Linked DNA regions of Homo sapiens: regions 2 and 3 are each reported to be linked to region 1. The links are microRNA targets in miRTarBase. Many come from high-throughput screens and were not tested one by one. Region 1 holds a microRNA gene; each other region holds the end of a gene's coding sequence.
The links. The annotated mature microRNA hsa-miR-550b-2-5p reads AUGUGCCUGAGGGAGUAAGACA and lies in region 1 at 2,132-2,153, shown strand. An mRNA with a match to its seed (bases 2 to 7 or 8) in the 3' UTR can be bound and repressed. Matches are read on the target gene's strand: a 7mer-m8 pairs with bases 2 to 8, a 7mer-A1 pairs with bases 2 to 7 and ends in A, and an 8mer does both.

Region 2: miRTarBase lists SLC36A2 as a target of hsa-miR-550b-2-5p. Seed matches in the 3' UTR shown: 7mer-A1 at 1,459-1,465.
Region 3: the mRNA of NLRP9 is a reported target of hsa-miR-550b-2-5p. The part of its 3' UTR that is shown has no 7-base or 8-base seed match.

The regions. Positions count from the first base shown.
Region 1 is chr7:32,731,935-32,735,193 of GRCh38, reverse strand. It overlaps MIR550B2 (microRNA 550b-2), which reads left to right and starts at 2,117; the gene lies at 2,117-2,213. It overlaps MIR550A2 (microRNA 550a-2), which reads right to left and starts at 2,213; the gene lies at 2,117-2,213.
Region 2 is chr5:151,313,786-151,317,044 of GRCh38, reverse strand. It overlaps SLC36A2 (solute carrier family 36 member 2), which reads left to right. Exons shown (of 10, transcript NM_181776.3): 10 at 1-2,073. The coding sequence ends at 228. Among named protein-coding and RNA genes, the nearest start is that of SLC36A3, 12 kb to the right of the region's middle.
Region 3 is chr19:55,706,016-55,709,274 of GRCh38, reverse strand. NLRP9 (NLR family pyrin domain containing 9) reads left to right here. Exons shown (of 9, transcript NM_176820.4): 9 at 231-837. The coding sequence ends at 363. It overlaps EPN1 (epsin 1), which reads right to left. Exons shown (of 11, transcript NM_001130072.2): 11 at 1-3,259. It also overlaps the pseudogene VN1R106P. Among named protein-coding and RNA genes, the nearest start is that of NLRP9, 31 kb to the left of the region's middle.

The sequences.
Region 1 (3,259 bases):
TAAAAAAAAAAGGTTTTAAAAAACTTCCTTTCCCTCTGGTTGAATTCTAACTGCTGGCCTCTTCCTCTGCCTGTCTCTTAAAATACTTGCTCCTCTGGATTCCATCCTTGTCCTTCGTCAATCTATATTCATCCCTTAGTAATCTTATCCACTTTCTGGAATCATTTATATCCTGCAATTTGATTTCTCAGTTTTTTGTAATATCCTGAATTAGAGACTCATGTTTCCAGCCACTTAAAGGATACTTCTATCCAGATGGAAATCCTATAGCCACTCAAATTTAACAGGCCTAAAAGGAACTCATTATCATTTCCTAAAACTTGTTATTTTCATCTTTAATACTGGTTAAAGACATCACTGTGTACCCAGGTTCTCAATTCTATCAGTTCTACCTTAGAAATCTCAATCAAATCTAACTTTTCTTCTCCCTCACCAATGCCATCTTTTCAACGTAGGCATCTTCTATCAGTTATATTCTAAAAGAATCCTAACTTATCCTCCTGCTATCACACTCTCCTCCTTAAGAACTGAATCCTGATCAGGGTTGCTGCATACAGCCTGAAGTCTGCACCACTAGAGAAGGTTGCCATCCATGTAAACTACGAATGTTAATTGTGCCCAATGGCCTAATCATGATACTCCCCCTGCTTTCAAACTTCATTAGATAAAACAAACCTACAGCACTATAAAATCCTTCAACTGGCTCCACTTTCTATTTTTCTAGCTTCAGGTGCTCATCATTCCTCTATGCACCCTACAGTCCAGACATATTTAACTTTTCAGTATGCCCTATCAAAACCCAAGCTTTTGTGGATTTTTCTTTAGTCTACAGTGCCCTCTCTCCATAAAACTTCTAAATCCTTCAAACTACAGTTCAAATGTACCCTCCTCTGTGAAGCATTTTTTGACTAGCCTAGACAAAGATACTTCACGAAGCATTTTGTTAACAGTTCTATTACTGAATTTGTTGCACTGTATAATGATCACACATATCCATCTCTCAAATTCAATGGAGAGTTGAGCAGTGCATAAAGAAGCCCCACATTTAAACCCTGAATATCTACAATGCCCAGCCCCTAAAAGGGGCTCAATTCATGTTTATTAATACTATACTTACCATATGCATTAGTACAACTTTTTAAAAGTAAATAAAAACTGAGTTTTAAAAAAAAGTTGCATGTTCAGCTGTCAATCTAAGTCTATAATCCATGTGGCAGACAGAATTGATGTGACTATTCTTGATTCCTACACTTCCTGGTGTTTAAACCTTTGTATAATTCCCTCCCCTTGCACGTGAACTGGACCTATGACTTGCTTCTAATCAATGAAATACAGCAAAGGCAATGGGTTGTATGTGATTACATGTACACGATTATGTAAGAACATAGCACCAGTTCACCTTTGATAGACTCTCTTCCTTTGCTGACTTTGAAGAAGCAAGCTGCTCTGAACCAAACAGACACAAGGAAATAAATTCAGCCAATAACCCAAGGAAGTCTGGGGGCAGACCTTTCCCCAGTTGAGTCTCTACATAACAACCCAGCCCTGGCCAACACTTTGACTGCAGTCTTACAGAGGACACAGCTAAGTTGTGCCCAGCCTCTTGACCCATAGAAATTGCGAGGTAATAAATGTGTTGCTTAGAACAGCTAAATTTGTAGTTATTTGTGAACAAGCAGCTTAGAACATGAATAAAATAAAAAAAAAAAGAAAATGAATAAAATCAGAACCTAAGGTATTTCTGAACTCTTTGTTCACAAAAAGGCCTATGTTTTGTCCAATTTCTAAACAAATAAATGTCATGTATATGCAAAATTAAAACACAGACTAACATTTCAAATAAACAATAGTTCTTAAGAATATTCACATAAGGTAAAACTTAGGAAGTAATCTGCTACATAAAGCAGTTCCTACACTCTCTTTTAACACATTTGCCAGTATACCCAATTGTACATAATACTTAGTACATGTAATAAGTTTAATATTAGGGCAATTCTCCTTACAAACCCAAATAATAATAAATAGTTTAAAAGTTGATATCTAATTAATGATATTTGGTAATCAAAAGAACTTACTTACTGGTCACCAGGCAAAGCAATCAAATTGGAGGAGAGCAAGAGACTCGCTGGAGATGTGCCTGAGGGAGTAAGACACTATCTGACAACAACAGGGCTCTTACTCCCTCAGGCACTGCACCAGCCAGCAAAGCATCAAAATACCAGGTTCTTAGGTCACGCTGCTCTCAGATCAGGTGATGCCCTGTGCAACTCACCAATCCTCCCCACCTTGCAGTCAAGAATAGTTCCAAAAAATCCCCAAAGCAGAAACGTCCATGACACAGGCCACACTTACACACAGCAAAACATATAACACGAAGGTATGAAATTACAAGTGAGAAACAATAACCACCAAAATTCTTATTACTTCAGGAGTGGCAGGGGTTGTGGTTAGAAGGCTCATTTTTCTTAGAAAGAGGCAAACATTCCTCTTTGGCCACTCCCCATAAAAGCCTTCAATGGCACAAAATAACATTCAGGAATAGGAAGTAGATTAATTAGAGTATCCCAAATTCAAACATTTTGGCACTTGATATTGGTAAGAAGAGATAACTGAGACCAATTCCATAATGGTTAATTGATGAAGACAACCTAACAGCATAAAACTTCACATCTGCTTAAAAATTAAGAGAAATCGTCCTAGAAATACAGGTCTTATTCAACATATTCAGTTTTAAGAGATAACCCACACTCCTTCAATATAAGAAAACATGTTGCACAAGTAACAAGGCACCTGAGTTACAATCAGACTACTGAAATACTCATGAGCAAGCCACACCCAAAAAAGCTCAAGAAAATCAGGAGGCCAAAAGCAACCCAGCACCACTAGTTGTCTTAGATTAAGTCATTTTACATTTTCACTTCCGGACTCAAAGATACATTATAGAAGTCCACACGATGTCTCTGGAAATAATCTCCATGTATTGGTATATTTCTATAGCCCAATTCATCTACCCCATCCTTGCTGCATCATTAAAGGCTATTTGACCACTCATGTTATGCTCTTATGAACAATAGCTACTTGACAGTGGAAAAAAAAACGTAGACGTAAATTAAAGCCAAACAAACCCTAAAATACCGTCAAGATTTTTAAATATTAGGAAATACCCTTAAGACCTTTTTTAAAACAAAGGTGATGGACGACACTAGCAGTAGTCAAGAAAGCGTCTGTTCACTTTAACACTCCTCAGTCTGAAAAGAAT
Region 2 (3,259 bases), not on the chromosome of region 1:
CTGGTGGGCTCCGTGAGTGGCACCGCCCTGGCCCTCATCATCCCACCGCTCCTGGAGGTCACCACGTTCTACTCAGAGGGCATGAGCCCCCTCACCATCTTCAAGGACGCCCTGATCAGCATCCTGGGCTTCGTGGGCTTTGTGGTGGGGACCTACCAGGCCCTGGACGAGCTGCTCAAGTCAGAAGACTCTCACCCCTTTTCCAACTCCACCACTTTTGTTCGGTGAGCCTGGCACTGCTCCTTGCCTACCAGCACCCGACTTTTAATTATATGGATCTCTTTTTTTTTTTTTTTTTTTTTTTGAGACGGAGTTTCTGTCTTGTTGCCCAGACTGGAGTACAATGATGCGATCTCAGCTCACCACAACTTCGGCCTCCTGGGTTCAAGCGATTCTCCTGCCTCAGCCTCCCGAGTAGTTGGGATTAGAGGCATAGTCCAGCACGCCTGGCTAATTTTGTATTTTTAGTAGAGACGGGGTTTCTCCATGTTGGTCAGGCTGGTCTTGAACTCCCGACCTCAGGTGATCCACCCACCCCGGCCTCCCAAAATGCTGGGATCACAGGCGTGAGCCACCTCGCCTGGCCAGATCTCTTTTATATGCATTATCTTTATGTCACTGCTTTGCCTTTTCTCTGGGCCAAGTCATGGTGAAACAAGAAAGCTACAAGCTCTAAATGGTAATTTTTTACATTTTTGTTTTGTTTATTACTTCTTCTTTTCATACCTCTGGCATTCCACTACATTGTGAGCTTTCCCTTGGAAGGCTCTGGACTCTATCCAAGCTTATGATAATTCACACAATGAATTTCATACCTAGCGTGGAGCTATGCAAGAAGCAGCCACCAGAGGGCCCCAAGTGGCAGCAACTGGCCAAAGGAGATGCAGCCAGCTAAGACTGTCCACACTTTGGCAGACAACCGGTTTTCCCTTTTCTGGGTCTGTTCAAAAAGCAAACATTAAGGGTGGGCACATAATCCACAAGCCAGAAAGTTGTGCACGGCTCCAGTGTTGAGATGGGTAGGGCCAAGATGACCAGTGTGAAAACTCTCAGATAGAAAGGAGCCATGCATATTAAATGAGGGGCAACAAACATTTCAAACGATTAGATAACATTTTCTCCCAACTCAAAGATCCCAACAATGAATAGGAGGCATGGAAGTAGATGTGCCAATGGGGAGGGATGAGGAGTGAACATGAATATTATTTGAATAGACTTTACCTCTTAATTCTTGCAACATGCATTCTTGATTACCTACTGTGTGCCAAACAAGATTTTGTAGAATATTGCAAAAATGACCATAAATTCCTCGTGATAATGTGACTTTGCACCTGCTCCTATGAAAAGATGAAGTCTGTATCTGTATCCCTTAAATTTTTTTGCTTGTTTGTCGGTTTTGTTTTGTGTTTTGTTTTTTTGAGATGAAGTCTCGCTCTGTTGCCCAGGCTGGAGTGCAATGGCACAATCTCGGCTCACTGCAACCTCCACCTCCTGGGTTCAAGCGATTCTTCTGCCTCAGCCTCCCAAGTAGCTAGGATTACAAGTGCCTGCCACTATGCCTGGCTAATTTTTGTTTTTCGTAGAGATGGGGTTTTACCATGTTGGCCAGGCTGGTCTCAAACTCCTGACCTCAGGTGATCCACTTGCCTCGGCCTCCCAAAGTGCTGAGATTACAAGTGTGAGCCACCACGCCCAGCCTCTCCCCTTTAAATTTGATCTTGGCCTTGTAACTTGCTTTGGCCAATGGGACATTAGTAAATGTGATGCAGTCAGAGGTTTGGTAATAACCTATGCATCAGGACTTACATCACTTGCTGCTCTATGGAGTTGAGACCACCAAGTAAAGCATCCTGGGCTAGCCTACCGGAGGATCAGAGACCATGTGGAACATAAATGAATCATCCCAGTTGAGCCCTGTCCGCAGATCAACCAGCCTACCAACTTCCAGACACGAGTAAAGCCATCCTAGACTATATCCAACCCCAGTCAGGCTGACACAGACCATAAGAATTGTACAGATAATCCACAGAACTGTGATAAATAATAAAGATGTTTGTAATTTTAATACATAAAGAGTGGGAAGTTTTATGCAGCAAAAGATAACTGATAAATCATTCTAAAGAGGATACACTGATTAATGAGAAAAGAATCCCTGCTCTCAAGCAGCCAGTCTGCTGTCCATTGGGGAAGAGTTAACAGGTAATCAACTAAGTAAATACCATCTAATGTCCATCTAAGGGCAAAGGACACTACCTGCTCTAGAGCACCAAAGAAGACTTTCCACAGGTGGTATCATTTGAGCTGGGCTTTGAGTAGAACCTGAATCTTCTACGACTGAGCCTGAACCTTCTTCCATTCTGTCCTGCTGCCTGGACATTACAGCACCTATGCTTGTGTCTGATCTTGGCTGGCAGCCAGAGGCAAGCCAACCTGAGACATCACCTCCATCCTTCTGGTGGTGACTGCTCTCTCCCCTCCCCTCAGAATTACTAAAATTGAGAAAACGCACCTAGATAAATAAATAGATGTTGAAGATCTATAGTCCCAAAAGGTGGGGAGAGGAGAGTTTCTCATCAAACTCTCCGTGGTTTACGGGAATGAGCTATGCCTGTTTCAGCCTCGGTGTTAAGAGAACATTTGAAAAAGCCCTGTCCTGCTTATTTTCATCCTTCGTCTTCCCTGTGCCCCCCAATTCCCACGTCCCGGTCTGCTCTTTCTGTATGTTACTTTCTATCTGCTGGACTTCCAGAAGATACTTCACCAGCACAAGTCCACTCAGATGGAGGAAAGGCTGGTGGTCCACACCCAGATCCCATAGCCTACAGAGTCCCTGTTGGGCAACAGGACACTCATAGCTCGTGCAGGGGTCCACAGTCCACTTTGCCAGAGAATGGGTTGTCATTTCCACCCTGAGCTCTCTGTTTCATCAGCAAACCCAAAGGACTTCCAATGATCCATCCTGAGTGTTGGCAATGTGATCATCCTCTCTGGAAACATTTCTCTCCCACCCTGCTCCACTATCAATCACCGCACCCATCCTTGAAGTTTAAAGTTATCTTCTCTGTTATTAAGAAAAGTTTACACTCATTCTCTAAAGATAAGCCCCTACTGTGTAAGAGGATAGGGTTAATTTTATTACTCAGACAAATCTGGCTGAAGTTAAACCTTGGAAAGAAAAACTAAATTTAGCAACATTGATATAACCAACAAAACTAAGCTAGGGAGACTCATTAGTAATCATTGGCAACACTAAAGACTA
Region 3 (3,259 bases), not on the chromosome of region 1:
TTAAATCTTAATTGATACATCCTGTATATGAAATTTCACTTTATGGTATAAATCAGAGGCTTCCTATCCTATAGGAAAGATTCATGCTTGTTTTTCAAATTCAGTACAATTCTCCCAGTGATTTCTAGGAAAGAATAAAGAGGAGAGGAGAGGTAGACATCAGAATGTAGAGAGGCAATACTGTGTAAAAATGAAAAACAAAAAAAAAAACTTTATTTCTATTTTCCCAGGCTGCACAAATCTGGCTTTGATGAAGAAACTCAGAAGATCCTGATGTCTGTGGAAGAAAAAATTCCCCATCTGACCATTTCACATGGACCTTGGATTGACGAGGAATACAAGATCAGGGGTGTGCTCCTCTGATGGGGAACACCCTGAAGTAGTCGTCTCACAAAGGCTTTCCTTGGCCACAGTGGGACCTTCACCTGGCACCTCTATCCTGTAATTGCACATCATGGCAGCAGGGCTGTGATTTCAGAGGTACTCCCTAAGTGTTCTAGCAATATGATTATGGAGTGTGATTCAGTGTACATGCTGATTGTCTTTGCCTCGGTCCTATATCCCCTTGTCTTTAGAAATCCCATCCTGCCTTGTGATATTTAGAAGCACAAGTACGTTAAACAAGTGCTAAACGCTCTGGAAAGCATGGCTTTATTTTCTTAATGGATGTCTTGGTGTGTAGGAGCATGCATTTGTAGGCACCACAATCCGGATACTTCTGACACAGAAGTGATGCTAGAATGTGTCTATAGATTGTATTGCTAGCATCCAGACTTTCTAGTTTGTCCAGATTTCGATTTGATCAATTTTCTTGTCCAATAAAAAAGCATTTCCAAATCTCTACTTATCCTTTTATATATGACACCCCAATAGATTTTTCTAAAAATTCAGTATTATTCAAATATATCTACACTGTTTATATTTCAAAACACAATATTAAACACTTCATTGTCATAATTAAACATTCCCTAGTTCCCTACGGTAAATTGCTGATGCCTTATTGGCCTGGTCTAAAATTTTTATTACAAAACATAAAAGCAAGATGATGCAGAAATTGGATTATATAATCAGTTATCATTAGATTGAAATATAATCTCAGATTCTCCTGAGAATGAGAAATTGTGGACCTACTCTTGGATCTCTTGGCACACTCCTGGATTCTTTGGATATTTGGGAGGCTGAATTTTCTATAATCTTCAATGTAGAGTGCTCGCACTTACTTGCTTAATTTTACTTCCAGGTTTTCCATATGTTTAAGCAATTATGAACTTTTTTGCCCAATTTTCTATTTGCTTTTGGCCTTTTCCCACAACTTTAAAGAATGCTGGCATAGGCCAGGAGTGGTGGCTCACGCCTGTAATTCCAGCACTTTGGGAGGTCCACGCGGGCGGATCACCAGGTCAGGACTTTAAGACCTGTAAACACGAGTTTACACTCAAGACTGGACAAGGGTTTCCATAGGACAAAAGACACCATTGTGTGGGGGATTCCAGTGGAAAGAAGAACCAAGGAGTTTGCCACGGCCATGTGGGTGAGAATCTTGTGTGTGGGCCTCATTTGATGCTCAGTCAAGATGGGAAAGATATTATGGAAGAACAGAATGGCATTGGCCAGAGTCCCCACCCCAGTCTGCAAAGGAAAGATGGTTTTTATGGCCACTTCCCCTATGGTTCTTAGGACATTGTTCTGAAAAGACATGGGGAGGGTTTCCAGGTGGTCTGAACTGAAGAGCTGGCTATGTCTGTGATGAGATCAGCACTCTTAGCTTTTCATCTTGGAAAGTTATTTTGGTCTTTCCTTTACCCGAAATAGAGACACTGTCATATTCCACAGAAGGGGCTCAACATGGAGAACATACCCCTGACACCAGTTTCACATTTGACTGGTTTTTGGGTATTTATTTTCATTTGTTATTTGTTCTTTCTTTTGTTTTAGAGTCAGGGTCTGCTTTTTGGCTCAGTCTGGAGGGCAGTGGTGCCATCATAGCTCACTGCAGCCTTGAACTCCTGGGTTCAAGTGATGCTCCTGCCTCAGCCTCCTGTGTAGCTGGGACCACAGGTGCACACTACCGTTCCTTTTTTTTTTTTTTTGAGAGACAGCCTCACTCTGTTGCTCGCCCAGGCTGGAGTGCAGTGGCACAATCTCGGCTCACTGCAGCCTCCGTCTCCTGGGTTCAAGTGATTCTCCTGTCTCAGCCACCTGAGTAGCTGGGATTTCAGGCATGCGCCACCATGCCCTGCTAGTTTTTGTTTTGGTATTTTTAGTAGAGATGGGGTTTTGCCATGTTGGTCAGGCTGGTCTCAAACTCCTGACCTGAGGTAATCCGCCTGCCTCGGCCTCCCAAAGTGCTGGGATTACAGGCCTGAGCCACCGCGCTCAGCCCATTTAAATATTTTTTAGTATAGACGGGGTCTCACTATGTTTCCCAGGCTGGTCTGGTACTCCTGGCTTCAAGTGATCCTCCCACTTCAGCCTCTCAAACTGCTGGGATTACAGGCACAAGCCATCGCACCTGGCCCATTTACTTTTTTTTTTTAATCTCTCTTTACTATTGTTTTTTAAATCTCTCTTTACTATTGTTTTTTAAATCTCTCCCTTCCCTTCCCCTCTTTTCTTTCTTTCCTTTTCCTTCCCCTTCCCTCCTTTTTCTCTCTTTCCTGCAATGCTGCAATCTTGGCTCACTGCAGCCTCTGCCTCTGGGTTCAAGCGATTCTCCCGCCTTAGCCTACTGAGGAGCTGAGATTACAGGCATCTGCCATCATGCCCGGCTAATTTTTGTATTTTTAGTAGAGACAGGGTTTTGCCATGTCGGCCAGGCTGGTCTCGAACTCCCAACCTCAGGTGATCCACCCGCCTCAGCCTCCCAAAGTGCTAGGATTTCAGACATGAGCCACCACGCCCGGCCCTCTTTCACTTTTCTAAAACAGTACGCCACTGCATTCCAGCCTGGGTGACAGAGCGAAACACGGTCTTTTAAAAAAAAAAAAAAAAGAAGAAGAAAAAGAGAAGAAAGGAAGAAAAGAGGAGGAAAAAGGAGAAGAAAGAGGAGGAAAGGAAGAAAGAAAAATAAAGGAAGAAAGGAGGAGAAAAAGGAGGAAGAGGAAGAAGAAAAGAGAGGAGGAGGAGGAAGAAGAAATCAAAGTTCTCCAGTCTCATAAACCTGCACATGCAGAGAATCTGGAAAAACTAAAGCTGGGTTGTTCCCCAACCAATGGACATTCTATGGTCCCTTTTCTTCCAGATAATAAGGCCTTCTTTG